3 separate regions of the Homo sapiens genome follow, and regions 1 and 2 are each linked to region 3. Evidence: fine-mapped expression QTL. A gene starts in region 3. Each other region holds a variant in brackets. All regions are shown on one strand. Distances are from middle to middle.

Region 1 (8,185 bases), 79 kb after region 3:
TAGGGTGTCAGTTTCAGATCTTTCTTGCTTTCTCCTGTGGGCATTTAGTGCTATAAATCTCCCTCTACACACTGCTTTAAATGTGTCCCAGAGATTCTGGTATGTTGTGTCCTGTTCTCATTGGTTTCAAAGAACATCTTTATTTCCGCTTTCATTTCGTTATGTACCCAGTAGTCATTCAGGAGCAAGTTGTTCAGTTTCCATGTAGTTGAGCGGTTTTGAGTGAGTTTCTTAATCCTGAGTTCTAGTTTGATTGCACTGTGTTCTGAGAGACAGTTTGTTATAATTTCTTTCTTTTACATTTGCTGAGGAGTGCTTTACTTCCCACTGTGTGATCAATTTTGGAATAACTGCGATGTGGTGCTGAGAAGAATGTATATTCTGTTGATTGGGGTGGATAGTTCTGTAGATGTCTATTAGGTCCGCTTGGTGCAGAGCTGAGTTCAATTCCTGGATATCCTTGTTAACTTTCTGTCTCATTGATCTATCTAATGTTGACAGTGGGGTGTTAAAGTCTCCCATTATTATTGTGTGGGAGTCTAAGTCTCTTTGTAAGTCTCTAAGGACTTGCTTTATGAATCTGGGTGCTCCTATATTGGGTGCATATATATTTAGGATAGTTAGCTCGAAGAAGGTATCTTCTATTTCTAGTCTGCTGCAAAGGCTCTGTTTTGTTTCCATTGGAAACAGATGTTGAATTTTCTGTGTCTATTAAAATGATTGTATAGTTTATCTCTCTAAATTTGTTAATATGATAAGTCACATTGATAGATTTTCATATTATAAAACAACCTACTATGTGAGATTTATCCCAGGAATGTGTAGGTTGTTTTATCTGTTTGTTTTAATTAGGATCATTCTGGTCTCACAAAATGAATTATAAAATATTTTCTCCTTTTCAGTTTTCTGAAGTGTATCTGTCTTCTCAGAGAATCACTGTGGTTAAAATTGATAGTATTTTTTTCTTAATCATTTTTTAGAATTCACCAGTGAAGGCATCTGGGCTTAGACCTTTTCTTGCAAGAAGGTTTTTAACTACTAATTTAGTTATTTAATAGATATAGATTTACTTAGATTATCTGTTTCTTCTTGAGTGATCTTTGGCAGCTTGTGTGTTTTAAGGAACTTGTTCATTCCATGTAAATTATCAAATTTATTGGAAAAAGTTGTTTATGACATTCCGTTACTATTCTTTTGAAATCTGTTGAGATTATAGTGATATTAGTCTCATCTTGATATTGGTAATGTGTGTCTCCTCTGTTTTTTTTCTAGATCAGTTTGGCTAGATAGCTATGACATTTATTTGTATTTTCAAAGAATCAACTTTCGGTTTTATCTGTTTTTGCTTATTGTTTCCTATTTCATTGATTTATCCTCTAATTTTTATTATAATTTTCTTTGTTTGGCTTACTTTGAGTTTGGTTTTCTCCGCATTTTAATTTTTGAAATGGTAGCTGAGGCTATTGATTTGAGACCTTTCTTGTAATGTAGTCATTCCCTCTTAACTACTGCTTTAGTAGTATCTCAAAGATTGTGTTATGTTGCGTTTTCATTTTCATTCAGTTCAAAGTATTTCCAATTTCACTTTTGTTTTCTTCTTTGACTTATGAGTTATTTAGAGGCATGCCACTTCGTTTTCAAATATTTGGGAGTTTTTTCAGAAATTTTTGTTGTTGATTTTTGATTCCGCTATAGTCAGAAAATATGTTTTTATGACTTTAAACATTTTAAATTTATTGAGACTAGTTTTTGGTCTAGATGGTCTATTGCTGTATTCAGTGTTCACTTTAAAATAATGTGTATCCACTTATTTATGGGTATTTTATAAATGCCTGTTAGATAAAATCGGTTAATTATGTTATTCAAGTCTTCTGGAGCCTTTCTGATTTTCTGTCTTCTTGTATCAATATTTGAGAGAGGGGTATTAAAACCTCTGATTATGGACTTATTTCTTCTGCAGTTTTATCATGTTTTATTTTATATATTTTGAAGTTATTGTTATTTAAGTTCATAAACATTTAGAATTTTCATATTCTCTTGATGAATGGATCCCTTTATATTGTGAAATGACCTTGCATATTTCTGTTACATTCTGTTCTGAAATCTACTTTGTCTAAGTACTCCAGCTTTCTTTTGATTAGTGTTAAAGTCTATAATTTCCTATTACTTTACTTTTTTTTTGTTTTTTGAGGCAGAATTTCGCTTTTGTCGTCTAGGCTGGAGCGCAATGGCACAGTCTCAGCCAACACAACCTCTGCCTCCTGGATTCAAGCGATTCTCCTGCCTTAGCCTCCTGAGTAGCTGAGATTACAGGCACCCGCCACCACCCCAGCTAATTTTTGTATTTTTAGTAGAGATGGGGTTTCGCCATGTTGGCCAGGCTGATCTCAAACTCCGGACCTCTGGTGATCCACCCGCCTCAGCCTCACAAAGTGCTGGGATTATAGGTGTGAGCCACCGTCCGCAGCCATCACTTTACTTTTATACTATCATTGCTTTGTATTAAAAGTGTGTTTCTGGAAGATAGTATATAGTTGGATCTTATTTTTTAATCCAAGCTGGCATTATTAACTTTGGGGTGTTTAGACCGTAAAGTTGGGGTGTTTAGACCATTTATATTTAATGTGATATTTGTTTGTTTCTTTGTTAACTATTTATTTTAGAGTCCATGACCTGCTTAATAATGTGATATTTGTATGTTTAGGTTTAAGGTTATCATCTTTCTTTTTTTAAATATTATCCCATCTTTTATTTCTCTTCTTTTTCTATCTTCTTTTGGATAGTTTTTATGATTCCATTATATCTCCTTTGTTGACTTTATTAGCAATAACTCTTTTTTAAAAAAATTTAGTGTTTGCTTCAGGGTTTACAGCATGAATATCTAACATATCACAGTTACCTTCAAGTGATATAATACTATTTCAAGTATAGCATAGGAATCTTATAATAGTATACTGTTCTTCCTCTCTTCCAAGCCTTATGCAGTTTTTGTCATATGTGTTATTCACATATATGTTAAAAATTCCACAATTTATCTTTATTGTTTTTTCTTAATTATTTTTTCGGTATTTAAGTAATAGCATAAATGATTTTATATATTTACCCATGTAGATACTAACTTTGGTACTCTTCATTTCTTTGAGTATCATTCATGTTTTCATCTAGTGTCATTTTCTTTCAGCCTAAAGGATGTCTTTTACTATTTCTTATATTTTGTCAGTTAGTGATGCATGCTTTCTGATTTTGTTTTTGTAAGATATTATTGCTGTGCATGAAATTTTAAATTGACAGATTTTTATCCTAGTAATTAAATATGTTACACTTTGGTCTTCTTGTTTGCATTGCTTCAAATTATAAATCTGCCATCAGTCCTATCTTTGTTCATATATATATATATATATATATATATATACACCCATATATATAATTCATGTATATATGTGTGTGTGTGTATATATATATAGAGAGA[G/TAG]AGAGAGAGAGAGAGAGAGAGAGAGATCCTTTTTTCTGACTGATTCTAAGCTTTTCTCTTTATTAGCCATTTATTTCTTGTGTTTGGGGTTTGTTGAGCTTCTTGGATCTGTGGATTTATGGTTTCATTAAATTTGGAAAATTTTTGGACATTATTTTGTCAATTTAAAAAATCTCCCGCCATTTTTCTTTTCCTCCAACAACATGTATATTCAGTCACTTTAAGTTGTTACTCATCTCAGTGATGCTTTTTTCATTTTCAAAAATTATTTGTTATCTCTGTATTCCATTTTGGATAGTTTCTAGTGCATGTCTTCAATGCCTTCTGTGAAGTGCAATTTATTGTTCATCCCATCCAGCATTATTTTTCGTCTTGGACATTGTAATTTTCACCTTTGGAAGTCCAATGTGAGTCTTGTTAATATATTCTATTTCTTAATTTTTTTTACATATGGGATATAGTTACAGTAACTTTTAATGTTCTTGTTTGCTAATCCTGACAACTGGATCAGTTCTGGGTCAGTTTAAATTGATTGATATTTTTCCTTCTCATTATGGGTTGCATTTTCCTGCCTCTTTGCATGCCAGGTAATTTCGTATTAGATGCCAGACATTGCGATTCTTGCCTTGTTTGAAGCTGGATATTTTGTATTACTAAAAATATTTTTGAACTCTTTTGTTCAAAATATTTTGTTCAAACTCTTTTGTTCAAACTCTTTTGTTCAAAATATTTTGTTCAAACTCTTTTGTTCAAAAGAGTTCAAAAACATTTTGAACTCTTTTGCACAGAGAAACAATTTGATTCCTTTAGATCTTGCTTTTAAGATTTGTTAGATGGAACTGAAGCAGTGTTTAGTCTAGGGCTAATTATTGTCTACTACTAAGGGAGGACCCTTCAGTGTGCTCTACCAAGTTGCCCATAAGTTTTGAGGTTTTACAGTATGGCTGGTAGAGACAGGCACTATTACTGGCCCTTGTATGAGCCTCAGGCATTGTTCTCACTAATCCCTTTGTTTTGGGAGATTTCTCATGTACATACATCAATCAGTACTCTGATGAATGTTGACAGGAACTCCTCCACAGATTGCTTCAATTTTTCCTCTATGCAGCTCTCTCCTCTCCATTACTCTATCTTACGAAGTGTAATCACTTTGGTTTCCCTGGTCTCAGAACTCTGTCTGGGCAATTCAGGGAATCTGTCAGGCATTTCCTCTCCCTGAACAGTGGCTTGAAAACTCTCTAAAGGCAAAGAGAAATTTTAGGGCTCACATAATTTGTTTTCCATCTTTCAGGATCTCTGTACTTTGTTGCCTAATTTCCAGTTGCTGACAAGCTTGTTTTATGTTTTTTTGTTTGTTTGTTTGAGACGGAGTCTCGCTCTGTCGCCCAGGCTGGCATGCAGTGGTGCTGTCTTGGCTCACTGCAACCTCCATCTCCCAGATTCAAGCGATTCTCCTGCCTCAGCCTCCCGAGTAGCTGGGACTACAGGTGCGTGCCACCATGCCTGGCTAATTTTTTGTATTTTAAATAGAGACGGGGCTTCACCGTGTTAGCCAGGATGGTCTCGATCTCCTGACCTCGTGACCCGCCTGCTTCAGCGTGTGTGTGTGTGTGTGTGTGTGTGTGTGTGTGTGTGTGTGTGTGTGTGTGTGTTAATTTCTTAATGGTGTGGGCAGTAGGGCAAATAAATCCAGTCCTTGTTATTCCATTTAATCCAGAAATAGAAATCCAAGATTCTTCTTTATTTTCCAGGAAACAGTGCTCTAATCCAAGAGTTACTTTTTAAAATTGAGGTAAAATTTGTTTATTTTTGGTTATCTGGCCTAGGGTCACTTTACACAGATCTAGGCCCTTCTTCCTGTAGCCATTCAGAAGATTGAAGACAGTGACATACATGCTTCTGTCTTTACAGGGATTTTTTAACCTTTGTTTTAGGACTTGACTTTCATTCTCCACATTATCCAATTCCTGACTTTGTGGGTGGGCAGTTGTTTTTAAAGATACAAGATGATGAATCTTGTATCCTTATATGTTGGGGTTTCCCCACAGTGCCTGTCATACATGGATGTTCAGTTCACTGAACTGAATTGCATATGGTTAGACACATTCATGTCTTAACTTTTCGACTCTGCATTAACTCCTTGAGCACTGTGTAGTTTTATGGGGTCTTCTGTAGTCTTACAACCTAGCTGAGTACATGGTAAGCCTTCTAAAAATGTGTCATGACCAGTTGATGCTGTAGATGATTGGGAGGGTACATCTGAAACATTCACCTCATCTGTTTGCTTCTGTGTCACCTTTATCATGTCTAAACCCTCTGGAAAATGAACTTGGCTTAAATTGAAATTTCTCAGTTCACTCAGTTGAGTTTTATCTTTGAGGATACAAGCCTAATGAAAAAATATGGACTTGGGAAAACCTGGCTTCTGGATTTATTTTTCACCACTTCTCAGTGAGAGAGATCTAGGGGTAGTCAACATCTTTTCTAGGGTTCAGTTTCCTTTTCTGTGGAATGGGAAAAACAGCACCTTTTTCACAAGCTATTTTTAAGGGTTAATTCCAGCACAGTTCTTGAGACACAGTAGGTACTAATACTTTCTTGTTGTTTCCTATTTCCATGAATTAAAAAAAAAAAATTAAAGGGAGGAATAAATGTTAGGAAGAAAACAAAATAAGGTTTAAGACTTGTTTTGGTTAGACAGTTAGGATTACTCACACATTTGGTCAGGTGAGGCCAGAATAGGGAAACATAGGCTTTATCCTTTGATCTCTCTGAATTTTTGCTGGCAGCCAAGTCCAGTGCTGGAATTATTTATTTATCCACGAGCTCATGCGTGCATGTGCACAGGCATAGGTGCTTACACAGATCTCTCTCTCTCTCTTTCTCCCATGTGCACACATGAACACAAACACACACATACACACACACTTTATGGCTGCCATCTGTTTCACACCCTTCTGAACTAACTTTTGAAATGCTCACTCTCCCTCCCTGTCTCCTACCCCTGCCCCCACCTCTAGGTTTGGCGCCCTCTTTGTCTCCTTCAGAGAAGCCATCGCTCGGTCAGTTCCGGGACGCTGTTAGGAAAGCCAAGCATAAGTAGTCTCCTGTTCCAGTTGTTTTGAGCAGAAATGGGGCTTGTTGTGGGGGGTGGCTGAATGCCCCGCACGCTAATCTGTCATCAGTATTAAAAACAGACGTCTGGTTCTCCCTCATGGCCTCATCAGAACAATTGGCATGGGTTTCAGCCTCTTGGGCAGGGTAGATGTGGGAGTAAGAAGCTGGGCCGAGGCACAGGCAGATTTAATAAATCCAAATCTCCTGTTTGACCTACGAAGAAAAAGGCTCAGAGGAGATGGACTTGTCCAGAGCTTACACACATGGTGAGTTACTGGTACAGCCAGAGCTAGAACTAGGGCTCTGGTTTCTTTCCTATCTACTCCCACACCCTCATCCACTACATTCAAAGATTTTTCACTAGTTCATATTACCTCCAGTGTAGTTTGCTCTTGTTGAGAATAGACCTAGAGGCAGATGGAAATAAAGGGATATAGGACACTTGTGTGGCTTGACAGAATGGAGTATCTAGCCACTGACAGCAACTAGTGAGCAACTAGTGAGCTCTGATCTTGTAAAGGGGATTGTAGCCCATCAGGCTTCCCACTTCTTTGTCTGATAAACTAGCTTCTGTGAATCCCTAAAGTTCCAAGTAGAAGAACCTTAAGCATTGAAACCGCCACCCTCAGTGTAAGGATCAGAAGAGTGAGGACAAGAAGGGATAGGTCACACCTAGCATCATAATCTCCTGTTTTTCTGTCTGGTGATATTCTCACCACACCCCCATGCATTTTCTTTGGTCATCTTCTGCTCTCCTGCTGGATTTTTTTTTTAACTTTAAAAAAATCAGAAACTTCTCTTTTTCTTCATGGGATTCTCAGCTTCAGCTTGTTTAGTTCAGGGCTGGAAGGCCATCTGGCTCTGTTGGCACTCACAGAGGCAGCAGGCCCTATCCACTAGCCCCGGCACCTCCTCATACAAGGCAGCAACATCTGGAGCTGGTCAGTGCCCCTTTTCTGCCCTGGCATCTGGGAGCCTACTGGGCCTCTCCCCCCCGATCAGTATCACTCTTGCTTCCTGCCAACTCTCAACTCTTGTCTCTGTTTCTTTCTTCCTATATCCTTTCCTGATTATTTCCTTTCCTCTCTCCTTCCTTCTTTTCTTCTTTTTCTACCTTTATGTGTGTCGGCTTCCCTTGGTGGCTCTCTGTCTCTCTCTCTCTCTTCTTTTTATTCCATGTCACTCTGTGCCCATGTCTCAGCTGACCTTTGCTTGTCTTTGTCTCTCTAAGCTGGCTCTGATATGAGCTGCTGATTTAGACTTACATCCAGGTAAAGGAGAATGTCCAGAGGCCATCTGTATCCACTCTCAGTTCCCCTGTTCTTTCTCTGTCCCTGTTATCATTAAGGATAATCTACAACTGAAAAGACACTCCTCATCCCAACACACACACCATCCCATCTCAGACCTTAGACTGAAAATTTTCTCTAGTAAAAGGGAGCAGTTATGGAGGTGAATTTGTATGAGGAATAACTCAAGGTGAAGGACAGCAAGGTCTCTTTTCTCCAGTAGCTGAGAGGATGGTGGCAGCAGTGGCTGTGATGGAGCACTTACATTGTAGGTATTTATGAAATCTTGTGGAATTTACTCTTAGTTCCT
Region 2 (8,185 bases), 21 kb before region 3:
TAAGTCTCCGGGGTATGGGGCACCAGAATCATTGAAGTTTACAACTAGAAAGATCCTTAATTTAACAAATATAGATGGTGGAAATGGAGTGCCATGGAGAAGAAAAATAATTGCCCAAAGAGAACCATTAGTTAATAATATTAGGACTCAAACAGGATTAGTACTCTCTCTTTCTTCCCCCATCCAAGGAAGTGTGTTGAGTGGCAATTCAAAAGGCCATGTGTCCAAAGGTCACATGGCTGCTAATAGGCAGAGACAGGATTCCATCTCAGGACTGTCTGACTCCCAAGTCCACATGACATGTACTGAGAATTCATTACATGCCAGGAGGTATGCTGGGCATTTATTATCTCCATTTCCTAACGTGGAAACTCACTTGCTCAAGGTCACATTTTTACGTTCGTAACAGCTTTATTGAGATATATTTCATATAACACACAATGAAAGGTATATTTTTGAGCCTTCTCTTCCAATGGTGACATTGCACCAAAACAAAGTTCGGGTTGAGTCTAGAAAGGAACGCAACTTTCAATTATTTTACAGTTGAGAAGATTCTCTAAGGAAAAGCAAATCAGAGGGAACCACTCCTCCCACCTTTCAACCATACCCCACTTTCTATTGCAGCTAGACTTAATGATTCAGGGATGCAGGTACTAGGAGAAGCAGGAGGTGGCATAACCAGCTGATGCTAATTGTGACCCAGAGTGCTCACATATGTCAACATATGAGCTAAGCTGACCTCTGGTTTTATTCAGCAACAATTATAGTGCCTACTATGTTTCAGGTACTGTGCTAGATGCTATGGATGCAGCAGTAAATTAAATATTGCCTTGCCTTCAGAGAGCTCATTTTAGTCTTGGAAAAAGATATTTAATGAGAAAAATCACCATGAAATATGTAAATGCTAGAGGGAGAAATATAAAGTGTGGCATGAACACCTGGCTCAAAACAGTTAAGGTGGATCCAAAAGGGCATTCCAGAACACTTGAAGAAGGTAAGATTTAGGCCAACACAGGTGGGTATGGAGAAGGTAAATGTTCCAAGATGCAAGAAAAGCATGTACAAAAATGTCCCTGAGATAAGAAAAAAGAAATTGTGGATGGAGCAAAGCTCTAGAGGGGATGGAAGTGGTGGTAAGATAAACCTAGAAAGATAGATGGACAGGAATCAAATCCCACTGGGATGTATAGACCATGTTAAGAAAGTTGTACCTTTGCTAGGAGCACTTAAAGGTCATTTAAAGGTTTTGTATATTATCATTAGCATTTGCATTTTAGAATTTGACTCTGGCTAGTGTGGGATAGGGCTTGACTTGGGATGGGAGGAAGTATATGTGAGATGCTAGATTAGAGTTAGGAGGATCAGTTAGGGAGTTGTAGTAGTGTTTCAAGGAGAAAAATAATAGCTTAAAATTTAGCAGCCATGAGGATTCAGAAAAAAAATTAATGTATGTGAAAAATATTAAGTGGCTAGAATGATGAGAACTTCATGATGGGACAGTAGAAGGTGAAAGGTGAGGAAAATGATTAGACATGGTGCCAAGCTTTCTGACTTAAGGGCCTGAGTGACTGCTGGAGTTCCTTAGGTGAAATAAAAAAGGAGCAGCAGGTATGGTAGAGCCAAGTTCAGTTTTGAATATACTGAGTCTAAGATTCCTAAGGTATATACAACTGGCAATATAAAATGGGCAGCTGGGTATACACCAATCTGGTGATCAAAAAGAAGGTAAGACATGAAAAATACAGTTTGGTATGTAGCTGCATACATGATTGAAGTCATAGAAAAAGATGGTATCGTCCAGAAGAAAAATAAATGTTCCCTTTTGCAATTTGTTTTCTTAAGCTACTTTCCTGCTGCCATACCTTGTATTATTTCTGACATTTTATTTAGAGACATTTTATTTCATTCAGAGAGGCTGACTATGCTGCTCATTTTTAGGCAGCTTTTACTTGTGTAAAATGTTATGGGGCATTGAAGAGTAGTTGTAGTACATATTAAATAGGCTGGAGTTAATATGCCCATTTCATTGAGGAGAATAAATAGGCATAGTCGCCAGAGCAGAAAGGAGGAATACACACTTTCAGGGTTGTTGCTTGAGCATTTGCACCTTACATTTAGCTAATTAGCCTTCTATGCAGGGTCTACGGTATATTTGCCTATTTGTATGTGGCCTTTCTTCCAGTGTATCAATTAATGGAAGTTTCATTCTTCTATATCCAGTCCCTGAGTCTTGGATCAGGCAAGGTAATATGCATGTCTAATGCCTTTCCATCCTTTCAGGCCATGACATTCTTCATTTAACTTCATTTCTTACACTTTTACAGAATCATTAAATGTGTCAAACAAGTTTCATATCTTGGGGTCTGAGAGATTTAGAGATTTATTACTAGTTTTAAGTTTAAATATTAAACGTCATTTCACAAAACACATGGCTTTATTCATGTGGTTGCTCAGAACTTACAAAATTTTCTTTCTTTTTTCTCTTCTTTTTTTTTTTTTTTTTTTTTTTTGAGACGGAGTTTCACTCTTGTTGCCCAGGCTGGAGTGCAATGGTGTGATCTCAGCTCACCGCAACCTCCACCTCCTGGGCTCGAGTGATTCTCCTCCCTCAGACTTCCCCGAGTAGCTGGGATTACAGGCATGCGCCACCATGCCTTGCTAATTTTGTATTTTTAGTAGAGACAGGGTTTCTCCATGTTGGTCAGGCTGGTCTCAAACCCCCGACCTCAGGTGATTCCCCCCTCCTTGGCCTCCCAAAATGCTGTGATTACAGGCGTGAGCTCACTGCACCTGGTCTGAAATTGTCATTTATCGTAATATGAAATTTCTTTCAATATTTAACTCTAAACATCTGTTGTCACTCAGAAGTAGTGGGATGTACCCCCACCCAACATTTGCTTCAGATGTTGAGGCTGATGATACCACACACACACACCAAGAAGATATGAAAAGATGTATCACTCACATAATGAAGCTTTCTAGGGAGAGCAGAGGGAGCTTCCAAACAGGTCCAAACATGGTTTGAGAAAGCAGGGAAAGGAGACTGGCTTGGATTGGGAGGTGAGGGGTGTAGGGTAAGGTTGGGGAGGTTCTCATATATTATCTGGGGCTTGCATGGATTGAGCTTCCCTCTGGCACCAAAGGTAGGCCTACCTAGGCTTCCCTATCAGTTTTCCCAGATGTGAAGCTGAAGAAGAGGGAGTAAGTAGAAGAATTTGAAAGTTGTTAGCAGTCAAGTACCAAAAATGGAGTCAGAATCTTTATTACGATTCATCCCTGATATTTGACTGATGACTGAAATGTGGCATGTTTCATTTAATTGAACTTGAACTTGTTTAGGTAAAATAAACCATTATGGCTTTCTATGAGGCCTGCAGCCTGAGGCTGGTAAGGGAGGTGAAAGTTCCATTAAATGCCTTGTACAAGAGCCCAATATTATGTATTTTGAGATGTGAAATGAATGCCTTAGTCACTATCAATAATTTCTAGACTACTGAAGGGGTTAAAGTGTTAATGAGGCCTTTTATTGTGGATTTATTGTGAGTAGAAATGACCTTGACTTATACTTTGAGTATAAGTATATATATATGAGGCAAGAGAGTCACAGAGTTATTTAACCCAAAGAGGCAACCTTGGATAGAAAACTGTTTTTGCTGCTATTGGCTGGAGCAGATGAGCAAATCACTGGCAGTGGTTCAACAGTCTATAGAACTGTGCAGATGTTGGTCAGGGTATTCAGTGCTAAAAGGACCGCATAAAGTTTGGCCAGTTGTGCTGACTTGGGTCCTGTTTCATTATCAGGGATGTCCCAGTTATGGGCTAAAAATCAGGAACTTTCCAGCAAGCTCCATCACATACAATGGTAGTGATACCATCTATAAAGTGGAGAAACTCCCTTTACTCTTCACTCTGTTGATTGCAAGGGCTTCCACAGATATCCAAAGGGTCTGGGAAGGGGGATGACTTTTACCAGCACCATGGTATTTAGCAAGGGGCTGAGGGTGGTGGTGGGAGACTTTTTCCTATAGGTGAAATATGCCAGGTTTGGCTCTATGCTACAGCAAGGAAACCTCAGTGGCTATGTTGAACTTTTAGGGTGTGATTTCAAGACCCAAGGGATAATGGGCAGCTGGTATGGAGAGTCACAGGCTGAGGGCCGGTGACAACCAGCCTGTTTCCAGGAGAGTCCAATATGCAGCCAGCAATTGCACTCTAATGGCATATAGCATGGGGCTGAAGGGACAGTTTATGGCACAAGATGCCTGTGGGCAACTTAGGGCCATCAAGTGTGGGCCAGAGACTTCAGGAATCATGGGAGGAGGTTGCTAAAGCCTTTAAGTAAAGGACTCTCAGGGGTCACTAATTGCAGTGCCTGTATTATAATTCATAAGTGAGCTTAAGTAATAGTATAAACGGGTTTAAGTAAAATTTGTAAATGAGAAATATGCTGTCTCCAGAACTCAAAATAGACTAAAACATATTGGGCTTTTAAAAAAATTGCGAATGCTGTTTCTGGCAAGTGTCAGGGATAGAATGGCCCTCAGCTAAATAGCTTTCAGGAAT[T/G]TATCCAAGGTGGAAGGACTTGGTAATTTGTGTGGGGTAGTGGTCCATCCCTTTTTCGTGAGCTCTTTTATGATTATGACTATATGTGTCCTCAGTGAGTGTGCCAAATGAACCTTCTTGGAGGATGATGTGATCAGTATGATCAGTGTTTACTGTGCTCCTGAAGAAAGTTAAATGTGGTCAAGATCTTGTCTGCAGGCTGTGTGAAGACCTGGCTGTTGTTATCCCATGAGTAGCTGAGTAAAAGGATACTGCATCCCTTTGATGGTGAAGGCAAATTGTGGCTGAGTCGCTGCTAAAATATTAGCCAAATCTATGAATTAAAAGTATTTACCAGTTGTTGATTAAAGTTAGTAATTTTGATAATATTTGATATGGGAGCCTTATTGGATAGAACTTCAGCATTAACATGGCAATAATCTACTGTGAGATGCCATTCATTCTTTCTAGGTTTCTGAACAGGCTACATTGGGCCATTAATGGTGAAGCAGTGGGGATAGTCACTCTTCTCCAAATAGGTCTGGTATATGGGTTTCAAACCTCAAAGACTCTGTTTTAATTTAAATTGGGCCATATTAACTATTTTAACTAACGGAGGAGGGGAAGGTCCATGCCGTCCCATTTTGGCAAGCTGATTTGTAAGTGCCAAAGACTTAATTCAATTTTAATTTATTACTCATTGGGTTAGAGCATCCATGCCCACTATGGGATATTTTAAGTTAATGGGTGCTATGGCTATGGGGGAATTTAGGCAGGGCAATAGTTCTGATTAAGATGAGGCATATCTATTTGTCTTCCTAACATGTCCTAAAATATCCTCAGTTAACTACCCTAAGATTATAGGGGTACTTTGTTTAAATTTAGGGGAATTCCAGGTATAATTTGAAGCCCAATATTAAGGCTATGAAGGGTTGACAACTGGTGCATTTCAGCAAATGTTAAAAGTTAATTCGGAACCTAGGTTGTAGAGGTACAAAAGCCAAATAGTAACCTTTTATCTTGTTTTGTTGTTGTTGCAAAAATTCTTTAATTTTGGATTTCCAATTGGGTCAAATTGTGAACCTCTGTTTTAGTTTTTTGTTTCTTTCCCCCAGTATCCAAGTTTATTTTATTTTCCTTTTGGTGGCTACCGTATATCATTTGGTGGTGGTGTGGGGAGGGGTTGGGGAGGAGGGAAGGTCCTCTCGATCCTGCTCATATGTGTAAGATTCTTCCTCCAGAGTTGCAAATACATATAATCAGGATTAGGTTCTCTCCCGTGCCAACAGTTGCTTTATAGGGTTTGAGGACCCAGTGCTTAAGTTGGCTTTGAAAGAACTCCTTGGCTATAGCATGGATGCTTTTCCCTATAACCCTTAGGATCAGGAATTTTTTTTTTTTTTTTTTTTTTTTTTTGGTCAGGGGGCATAGTGGCATAGGGCATAGGCAGAAGTAGGAAGAAAGGCATTTTGTAAAGTCCTAGTAAACCATCTGCTTTTGGGAGTGTGCACCATAGCATTCAACATGGTCTTCGTCCATGAGTGACTACCAACCAGCCTGCATATTGCATAGGGTATGACTGTTTCTTTTGAGTACGCCATACAATGAGGGCAACACCTGGTTGAGATAAACAACCAAAAGTCACAGGGTAAGAGTCATTCCTCTGAGCCTCGTGACAGTCACAGCTGACACTGGGATCCAGAAACACAATTCAGAGACACAGGTAAGTCTCGACCAAGACACATGACCCAGGGCCACTTTAATCTTGTTCTTAAATGCCACTTTATTCTTGTTCTTAAATGCCAATTATCAAAAATTCCAACTTAGCTGAGCACATCTATAACAGAAGCTTGGTAAGGCTCAGTGAACGCAGTACAAAGCAGCACAGCACAAAGCATGAGCTTGCCAGCAGTGACAAAAAAAAAAAAAAAAAAAAAAAAATTCTAGCCAGCAAGAGTCAGTTAGCAAACTAAAGCAAGAGGAGAGCCCTGCAGTGGTAGTGGTCATCTCCTAGACCCTCTGCTTGTTGCATAAAGTGTTTAGTCATCCCACAGAGGAGAGGTTGAACCCCTTACCCAAAACTTGGTTTAGGTGTTAGGACTGATGTTACATTAGGACCAAATAGATATGAAAAGGTTTATCACTCACACGAGGCTTTTACAGAGAGCAGCGAGTTCTCAAGCAGGTCCAGAAATGGCTTGAGCAGGGAAAGTAGAGGAGCCTGGCTTTTCCTAGTGGCTTGGAGGTAGGGCTGCAGTGAGGATTCTTAGGTGGTTTGAACTTCCACCAGGCACAAAGGTGGAAGCATTTGAGCTTTCTTACTGGCATGTCCAGATATGGGGCGGAAGGGGGAATAATAGGTTTTAAAAACTCAGCCAGTCAGACATCAACAAATGAGTCTGACTGTACTACAAAGTTGTACTAAGATTACAGCACTTATTTGGCGTAGGCTTCTGAGGGGAGAAAAATTTGATATTATTTCAGAATTTTTAAAGGACAGAAAATGTATTTCTGAGACAATGTCAATCAGTGATTCCCCATCAGGAGAGATATTAGAATACCGAAGAGGGTATGCATTTTCAAACTATGCCTTTGCCCTCCACCCTCAGGACTCTAAGGAGATTCTGATTCATACCCTACCACCTCTATAAGTATGAAGCCTCACTGAGCCATGGGTACTGTTGGCAGTAAGTCATATAAACTAGGGCAGAAAAAAAAAGAACCATTTGAATTATTACTTAACCACTTTAGACCTTTGAATTTCTTTAATGTCCCCTCATTCTGGGGTGGTTTTAACTTCTGGCACCAACTTCTCACTCTTCATCCTAATCTTGTACCTTTGTTCACGATATTCCCTTTACTTTTAAGGCCCTTCAGCAACCAGATCTTCTCAGCAGTCTTTACTCAAACACTTGGCACTCCATTTCTATCCTGTTACCATTTATCTTACTCTCTTGTATTTTTTATTATTTGTTTACATACCTTATCTCTGCAGCCAGACCACAAGCTACTTGACTACAAAATTCATGACTGATTTTCTTTGCATTCATTACTCATATTAAGTATTGCTAATAATAATAAAGGGTAGATGTCTTATATATGTTTAATAAGTGAGTGAATAAATGGAATCTCAGGTTTTGATATTCTTTCACAATATGCAATGCCATTATAGTTATAACCAGGTAAACTGGGTAAATCACCACAAGAAAATCCTGGTTTTATCTGTATAGGGAAAACATGCATTTGACTTATATACATTCACACAAACTCTTCATGGTTTCAATCAAGATTTCAGTGAGTTAGTAAATAATTTTCCTTTGCGGTTGCAGGGGTTAGACTTTCCCTTACCAGTTTCATATCATCTTTATATCACAAAAATGAGGTAATTTCAGATATATTTGGTTTACTGTAATTTCAAAAATGCTTTTTATTCTGCTAAATGGCATTTATATATCCATCATCTCTTCACAATACTGCAATAAAATGTGAAACAGTCATTACTAGTGAGAAAACAGACTGAGAGGTTAAGTGACTTAATGGTCATAGAGCTAATAATTGAGGGAAACAGGACTAAACTCAGGACTCCCTGCTTACAAAGCTCAAGCTTTAACCACTTAACAGGGATATTTGTGGCTTACTTTTA
Region 3 (8,185 bases):
GTGTCTGGCCCTGTGAACGGTACTGGTGATACAATTTTGAGCAAAAACCAGACATAAACAGTGCTTTCCCCTAAAAACTAGACAACATGTAAAATATTGCATTTCCTTTCACAAGACATAAAGGTCCATCCTACTATTGACACGCTCCCCTGGTTTGACTGGGTTTTTTGCAAGGTTTATCTCATTTCCTTTTATGTCAGCTTTCTAAACTTTATTCCTCATGCATTCTAACAGAATGCTAATCAAGTGCAAAACTATCACTGTGCCACCAAAGGCCACTCGTTAGCAGGACTGACTTTAACGAATTCAGTGAGGTCATCACCTGACATCCACTCCTGTGTGTGGGAGAGGATTCTGATGAAGTTTAGATTACTCAGGGCATTTAAGGCACCTGCAGACAACTAAGATAAACTCAACAAGTAGGGGCTTATAGGGAAACACAGGCATGCTCCTGAAGTTGTACCAGTCTGGGGCAAACAAAACGATCCAGAAGGAAGTATGTTTGTAGAGAAAGAAAACTTTAGCTAAATTACTAAGTTAAACATAGCTAAACTATGTCAAGGGCAGGCTAAATGAATAATAGGGTTTCCTGGAAAACATGCTTGCCTGTTGTCTCTGTCTTCCTCTAAAACTGCAGGACCTAGAAAGACTCCCTTGCATCTTTCACAAACATTTGAGTAGTACCTACGCTGCCAGTATGACTCAAGGAATATAAGACAAAGGAAAAATCAATAGCCCCTTCTCAGGGACCTCCAACTAACCTCAACCCTCTCTCTCTTTCAATTCCTTTCTCTGCATATAACATCTGTTCATTTAATCATGAGATTATGATTAAAGGATCAAGGAGATCCTAGGAAATATACAAAATGGGATGAGAATTTTGGGGAGACTAGCAGAGACTACTTAGGGTTATCAAAATCTGGCAAAGAGCCTGAGCAACAGAGTGAAACACCATCTCTACAATAAATTTAAAAGATAATCAGGTGTGGTGGCATGCACTTGTGGTCCCAGCTACTTGGGAGGCTGAGATGGGAGGATCACTTGAGCCTAGGAGGTTGAGGCTGCAGTGAACTGTGATTGCACCACTGCACTCCAGCCTGGGTGACACAGCAAGACCCTGTATAAATAAATAAATATGACAAAGCAACACTTAGTTCTCTTCCAGCACTGCCTTCCTCTCATAATTGCTAACACTCTTAAAGCAACTACTATTTATTGTCAGGCATTTTTTTATATGTTCTCATAGTCTCATAATAACCATGTAAAGTAAGTGTGATTCCTCTTCAAAAATAAGGAAACCAATGCTCAGAGAAAGTAGCCTGTCCAAGGTCTCAAAACCAATAAGTAATAGAGCAAGGATTCAAATCCCAGTATCAACTCCCAGCCATAAAATTACTAACTTAAAGGATGTTTCATAGTTCCCTAGCTTTAGACAAAGTCTGGCTGAGAGGTTGGTAAGGGCACCTAGAAATGATTTTTAAATTTGATTGTTTTACCAGAAAGACAAGATGGAGGGAATGTCACAAAGGTTACACATCAGTGTGCATAGACAATGATCTACTTTAAGGGCCTTATAAACTTCTGGCTTCCAACTATTCTCCAGACATAAACATAGGGGCTCTGAAGGGTTGGAAAAGGCTTCTAATAAAACTACTATAATGTAACATAGGTGTAAGACAGAACTGGGTTTGTATCCCAACCTAGCTACTTGCTCTGTAGCCCTGGGTAAGTCATTTAACCTGTTATTTTTCTTATCTGTAAACAAGGAATAAAACCTAGACTGTTAGCAGGATTGAATTCACTAAGATAATGCACATAATAAGCACTCAACAAATTATAATCATTTGCATTTTTAATAGATTGAGGCTGACAGGACAAGTGCCGTAGCTACTGACAAGGTAACATAGGAAATTAGAGTAAGGAGTTTAGACAGGGCTGATTTAATTCCCATGACATATTTTCTTTTAGGGATGTGCACAGATATTCCAGCTAAGTCTTGCTGTCAGACACAGTCTAGCTTTGTTTCTGAACTGGCTTCAGCAACCCTGTAGCTAGTCCTGGAAATGATAGAGCCAAATTCTGTTCCAGGGAAAAGCAGACCAAAAGAGACCATACAGAACAGTAGTTACTCTCCTTCAGAGTATGACTGCCTTCAGCCTCAGTCCCTGCTATGAGGTGTTTTTTCAAGCCAATGGCCTCCATACCTCACCCTATAGTCCGTTGCACCTCATCCTGCCTGATAACCTCAGGCTCCTCTCCTTATCTAGCCCCAGGTCTTGGTCTAAGGGCAAACCAAGAACAAAGTCCAGGGCTCCTCCCTACCTAATCAGAGAGATTTACCCCCCAACTTTAGAGTTCAATCTGATAGTCAGTGATACTCACTGGCAATCCTCTTTTTCATTAGAGGGGAATGGGCTGAGAAAATAAGACTAAGCAGGCCCTAGCAAGGAAGAAGCAAGGAAAGCGGGAATATACGGAGTTACAGAGATCTGGGTATGAGCTTAACTGTGTCATTCCTAGCTATGGAAACTTAGGCAAGTCACTTCCTAAGCCTTAGTTTCCTCATGTGTAAAACTGAATACAGTAGAGCCTACTTAGAAGGACTGTCATGAAAACTGAGTAAAGAAGTAGATACAAGACTAAAAATTACTAGATTTTGAGAACTTACTATGTGCCAGATCCTAGGCATGCTAGTTTACTTCACTAAATCCTCACAACAATTCTGTGACATTGGTCTTGTTATCATAACCCCATTTTACAGATGAAGAGCCAAGGCACTGGGTGGTTAAGTAACTCATTCAAGGCCACAAAGTCAGGAAGAGATAGAGCTAGGACTTAAAGTCAGGAAGAGATAGAGCTAGGACTTGAACCCAGGGTATCTGACTCTAGGTCAGAGTGCCTCAACTTTGGCATTACTGACATTTTAGGCAGGATAATTCCTTACTGCGGGGGGGAAGGGCGTATCCCACACATTGTCAAATGTTTAACATAAAACATTATGTTTAATGTTTAATCTACCCACTTGAGGCCAGTAGTATCCCCCACCCTGTGACAACCAAAAAACATCTCCAGACATTGCCTAATGTCTCCTAGGAGACAAAGCCAGACTTGGTTAAGAACCACTGCTTTACAGTCTAGCACAGGACTAAATGCTCAATACCTAAGGGTTCCCTTTTTTTTTTCTGGTGGTTGTTGTTGTTGTTTTGTCTGTCTCCGAGCCCAAACACCTCACTCACAGAGCCACTGCCCCTTCAAGCTGTAATGGATCTTATATAGGATAAATTATTCCACTCATTCCCCTGGAGGTCTCACTTTCTATCTGCTATCGTAGCTTGGGGGTACAGGGAAAAAGGGCTTAGGCAGATGACCTTGAATAGTTCCACTTCTTCTTCCCCAAAGCCTACCACTTTCAGTGGGCCGGGGGACCGGTGGTCAGAATGGAGTTAGTGGCAATACCATACCTGCCTCATGATAACGGATCTTTGTTTAATAAATGAAGAAGATTCTGCCCTTCACAGGGATTACCACACTCCTTCAGGATTATCTGAACTGAAGATTTATCACTTTGTTCCTCAGCACCTGAACTCTGCTCATCTTCATATACTCATCCAGTTTCATACATTACTTTTAGGTCCTTGGGTCCCCTGAACTCCCTCTGTCTCCCATGCAGCGATTTAAGGAAAATCTCTTTAGCAGCCCAAGACACCAATCCACAAATCTACTCAGGGTCCTTTGATTTTATAGCCCAGTTAGGACATCTCCACCCCACGATTCAATCCTCTCCAAACCCTGTCCCCAACCCTCTTACAATTCCAAATTCCAATCTTTGGGGCTGTATATTGCAACCCTCGTCAATTCCTCACTCATATGCCCCAAATCCCTCGGACTCAGATCGTTTAATCCCTATTTCCAAATCTCTGCCACACTCAGCCCCGCACCTCAGTTCAACGCCCCAATTCCTCACCCCAGATTTCTGCTCTCCCTCAATCTGAGCCCCCATCTCCTGCATTCCATCGGGCACTGTGCTGCCCTCATACCCTGCTCCTTCCTCTTATGCACTGAATGTCATGTGCTGCCTTCACACCTCAGCCAGCTCCCTTCTTTCTGCTAACAAGATAGAGTCCCTCAAGAACTCACCCCACCCCCTCAATCTCACCCTCAGCCCACTCCGAAAACCCTTTCTCAATAGCACTTAGGATCGCCCTAGACCTTGCTCCTATCATCTCAGACCCTGTCCTTGCCAGATGCCTAGCGCCCCCAGATTTCCTCAAATCTCATCGGGGCCCCCCAGTTCCTTCATATTTCTGAAATTCTGCACCCAGGTCCCTCCAGGGCCCTGATTCCCTCCCATCTCCCACATGCTACACCCCGTTCCTCCTCAGGGCCCCGACATTACCTCATACCTCCCGAGATGCTGCAACCGCAAATCTCTTCAGAGCCCCTCGCTCCCCTCCCCCAGCTGCATCTCCTCGGATCTCCTCAGCCCCACGAATCCCTCCCGAGCCTGCCCCTCGCAGCCCCACCCCCACCCTAGTCCTGCCCCCCCCAGATCCGGTCCCCACACCCTGCCATTCGGGCGCGGCCGCTGCACGCCGGCACGTTCCCCCGCCTGGCCGCTGAGCCACGGCCCACGACTCCGGCCGCGGTCCCCAGTCCCCAACCCTCCTTCCCGCCCCCTACCTGACCGCCCGCGGCTCCGACGAGTCCACCGCCGGCAGCCCACCCGCCTGCCTCCCTCTGCGCACGCGCCGTTGAGCACCCCTTGCCGGGCGCCAATTCGCAGAGCTCCCTGTCCGTCACTGAGCCCCGCCTCCCCAGCATGCTGGGGCTTGTCGTGCAGCTGGCCCCAAGCGCGCGGGGCAAGGCGGCCCTGCAGGGGTGAGCTTTCCTCTGAGAACCCGGGGCCTTAGCGACACGTAATCCAGTTTTCCGTCTCCTTGGTGCAGATGAAGAAACCGACGCCCATGGGCGAAAGGGACCTGCTCAAGTTCACTCAGTAAGTCAGGAGATAAGCCAGAATGCGTATCTGACTCCAGTCTCAATGTCTACCCCTTCACAAAACGGTAGCCTCCAGGGTAGTCCTCAGCAAAGCGTTGGCACCTTACTGAATCTGTTTTTCCATCTGAGAAATGGGCCAACGGAAAAATCAAACTTCCATTCTGGGGAAGTCGAGAACCGGGACTCCCTAGGAAGGGCAGTGCTTTGGCCTCATGTTCTGTGCTCTGACAGAGAGCTGCACTAGAGACAAGTTTATCCATGAACACATTGCTCTGTAAAGGAATGTTTTGCCTACTCAGCTGGGAGGCCGACAGCAGAGGCAGACTTGGGGAGTACACTCTGCAGCCCCTGTCCCTGCAGACTGAAGGTACCCGGGAACCCAAACCAAGTGTAGTTTTGCTCGGGTGAAGGTGGAGGAATCTTACCAGGTGGGAGGTGATCTGGCCTGAGATTTGAGGGAATCTGGGGCACTAGGCATCTGGCAAGGACGAGGTCTGATACAGGACTGGCTGGCCACGACCTGCAGTCCCTGAAGTAGTTTGGGGCCAATCACCTACTCTCCAAGGTGACTATACTGTACAGCTTAGGAGCACAAAGGAGTTTGAAGTAGGATGGACTTGGATTTGAAATTCCCCTTAGCTATGTGACCCTGCACAATGATAAAACAATAAACAAAAACAATGACTAACATCTTTGAACACTTGCTGTCTGGCTACAGCTGAGGACTTCAGGTGCATAGCTCACTAAATCCTCATAAGGACCTAATGAGATAAGGCAGCTGATGGTTAACCTACACCTGTTGTGTAACCTAGGTGGTTACACAAGGCCACATATACCTAAGTGTTGGAGCCCAAATTTGTACCCAATTCTATCTGAGAACCCACTCTCTTAACCTTGTTTACTCTTTCTCCCCATTTTCTAAATTTCTAATTGAAGTTTGCCATGAAGATAAGCCAAGATTATGGTAGTTTGCACTTAATGATAACTATATTTGAAAAATTGTAATTAGCAGGTAGGGGATAAGGGAGAGGTAATGCCAAATGATTTCTCACTTAGACCAGTTGGGGAGACTTTGCACCCGTTTAAAATTTTTTTTTTTCCTGAAAACCACAGTTATCAGCCCAAAGTATAAATTTAGGACTGTTCATAGTCTTACATATATACATATTATATATGTGTGTATATGTATCAATACAGACATACTGATGTTTCCCTAATTACAGAGGAGTGTTAAAAATACTCCTGGGGATCTAGCTCAAGCAAGTGTCTTGAAAAAAAAAAATCTCTCTTCTCCCTTAAAACAAAAATCAGTGTTTGACTCTTCTTTAATGTTTATTACCAGTTAAATGAATTATTATACCTCTCACAAAATCTTAGAGTAGAATAAGCATTCTAGGAAATGCACTCAATTTTTATCTTATAGCTTGACATATCCTGGCACAATATTAGAATTCCTCTTACACAGAGGCATTTAAAAAATAATCTTTGTGGAGTGCTTTAAACACTCTTTATTCAGCATTTTAATGTAACAGATTTTTATTTAACACTTAAATCACCTATATCAGTGGAACCACCTGAGGAGTTTACCTTGCCCACTGCCTAGACAGAGCTGATTCATCAAGACAGGGGAATTGCAATAGTTAAAGAGTAATTCACGCAGAGTCAGCTGTGCGGGAGACTGGAGTTTTATGATTACTCAAGTCATCTCCCTGAGCATTTGGGGAACAGAGATTTTAAGGATAACTTGGTGGGTTGGGGGAAGCCAGTGAGCCAGGAGCGCTGTTGGTCAGGGATGAAATCATAGGGAGTCGAAGCTGTCTCCTTGCAGTGAGTCAGTTCCTGAGTGGGGGGGCCACAAGATCAGATGAGTGAGTTTATTGATCTGGGTGGTGCCAGCTGATCCATCAAGTGCAGGGTCTGCAAAATATCTCAAGCACTGATCTCAGAAGCATTTTAGGGAGGCTCAGCATCTTGTAACCTCCAGCTGCATGACTCCTAAACCGCAATTTCTAATCTTGTGGCTAATGTTAGTCCTACAAAGGCAATCTAGTACCCAGGCAAGGAGGTCTGCTTTGGGATAGGGTTGTTACTGTCTTTGTTTAAACTATGAACTACAGACTAAATTTCTCCCAAAGTTAGTTCAGCCTATGCCCAGGAATGAACAAGGACAGCTTGGAAGTTAGAAGCAAGATGGAGTCAGTTAAGTTAGATCTCTTTTACTGTCTCAATCATAATTTTGCAAAGGCAGTTTCAGTCCATCACTTTGGGTTTTGTAACACCTTAATCTTAAAGTGTAGGGTATGAAGATGGGAAAAGGCTGTCGATTGCTCTGGGTTCTTCTTGCTGACAGGGGACGTAGTGGGAATGGGAGTCAACCCCAAGGTGAGAAGAGTGGGACCACTTTCAAGTGTCTGAGCGACTCATGCAGGTCTGGCTGGGCTTCTAAGGCTTGCATGGCAAAAACATTAGTACTCTCATCTATAGTTTTAGTACAGTATTTAGGTGAACAGCCTACTATAAGGTAAATAATGAGTCCTAGGATGAGGAGTACAATACTCAATTTTAAAAGCAAAGATTTGAAAGCATTAGTCTGGCGACTTCCAACCCACAAATAATTTAGGATTTAGTCAAAATTGTAGAAAAAACTCAAGGACAGCTAACAACAGCTAACAATAGGTTTCCTCTTGAAGCATAATTTCTCTCTCTCCAGACCCCATTTTTATTAAAAACAAATCATGATAGAACTGATTTGTTTACAGAAATGTACTTTAGTCTTACTATACTTGGCCTGATTATTTGCATAAAGTGCAGCAAGAATAATTATTTTTCACTTAGGGTCTTTTTTGTTTAAATTAGCTTTGATGGAACTCTGTTCCATGAGGAATCTCAGATAAGAGTTTTTAAAAGCCAAGCTCAGCCATGGGTTTGTATCCTCAAATACCTATGAGTTGGGTAAATTCCTCTCTTCTCAAGGTCCCAAAATAACTTGGGGTTCCTGGGCCTGTTAGAAAGTGACATTCTTTACTTACCACAGGTCAGGAACCTTGTACAGGGACTGTATGACAGAACCTTGTACAGGGACTATAGACAAGGTCTGAGGTTAGATTCCCCAGGGGGCTTTAATTGGCTCTATACATTAATTTTGATTCTTTGAAGGAAGCATGCCATTCCAGTAAAAGCCTTGGTA

Alleles and levels. Positions count from the first base shown, and alleles are read on the strand shown. Sizes are in standard deviations (SD) of each study's normalised expression. Not every link is listed here.
For the expression in monocytes of the gene that starts at base 4,757 in region 3, allele TAG in region 1 goes with a lower level than allele G (large effect, 0.91 SD a copy in BLUEPRINT).

What was found. PIP is the estimated chance that this variant, and not a neighbour inherited with it, causes the effect.
Region 1: its variant is fine-mapped to the expression of TRIM32 in monocytes (BLUEPRINT, PIP 0.95).
Region 2: its variant is fine-mapped to the expression of TRIM32 in monocytes (TOPMed, PIP 0.96).

The regions. Positions count from the first base shown.
Region 1 is chr9:116,604,607-116,612,791 of GRCh38, reverse strand. All of the region lies in intron 19 of ASTN2 (astrotactin 2), which reads left to right. The region is part of intron 1 of LOC105376240 (a long non-coding RNA gene); the gene reads right to left. Among named protein-coding and RNA genes, the nearest start is that of TRIM32, 79 kb to the left of the region's middle. The variant G/TAG (reference allele first, on the strand shown) is at 3,470.
Region 2 is chr9:116,705,059-116,713,243 of GRCh38, reverse strand. All of the region lies in intron 16 of ASTN2 (astrotactin 2), which reads left to right. Among named protein-coding and RNA genes, the nearest start is that of TRIM32, 22 kb to the right of the region's middle. The variant T/G (reference allele first, on the strand shown) is at 4,564.
Region 3 is chr9:116,683,877-116,692,061 of GRCh38, reverse strand. It overlaps TRIM32 (tripartite motif containing 32), which reads right to left and starts at 4,757. Exons shown (of 2, transcript NM_012210.4): 1 at 4,681-4,757. All of the region lies in intron 16 of ASTN2 (astrotactin 2), which reads left to right. RefSeq lists enhancers at 4,281-4,330, 4,771-5,090 and a silencer at 4,501-4,700.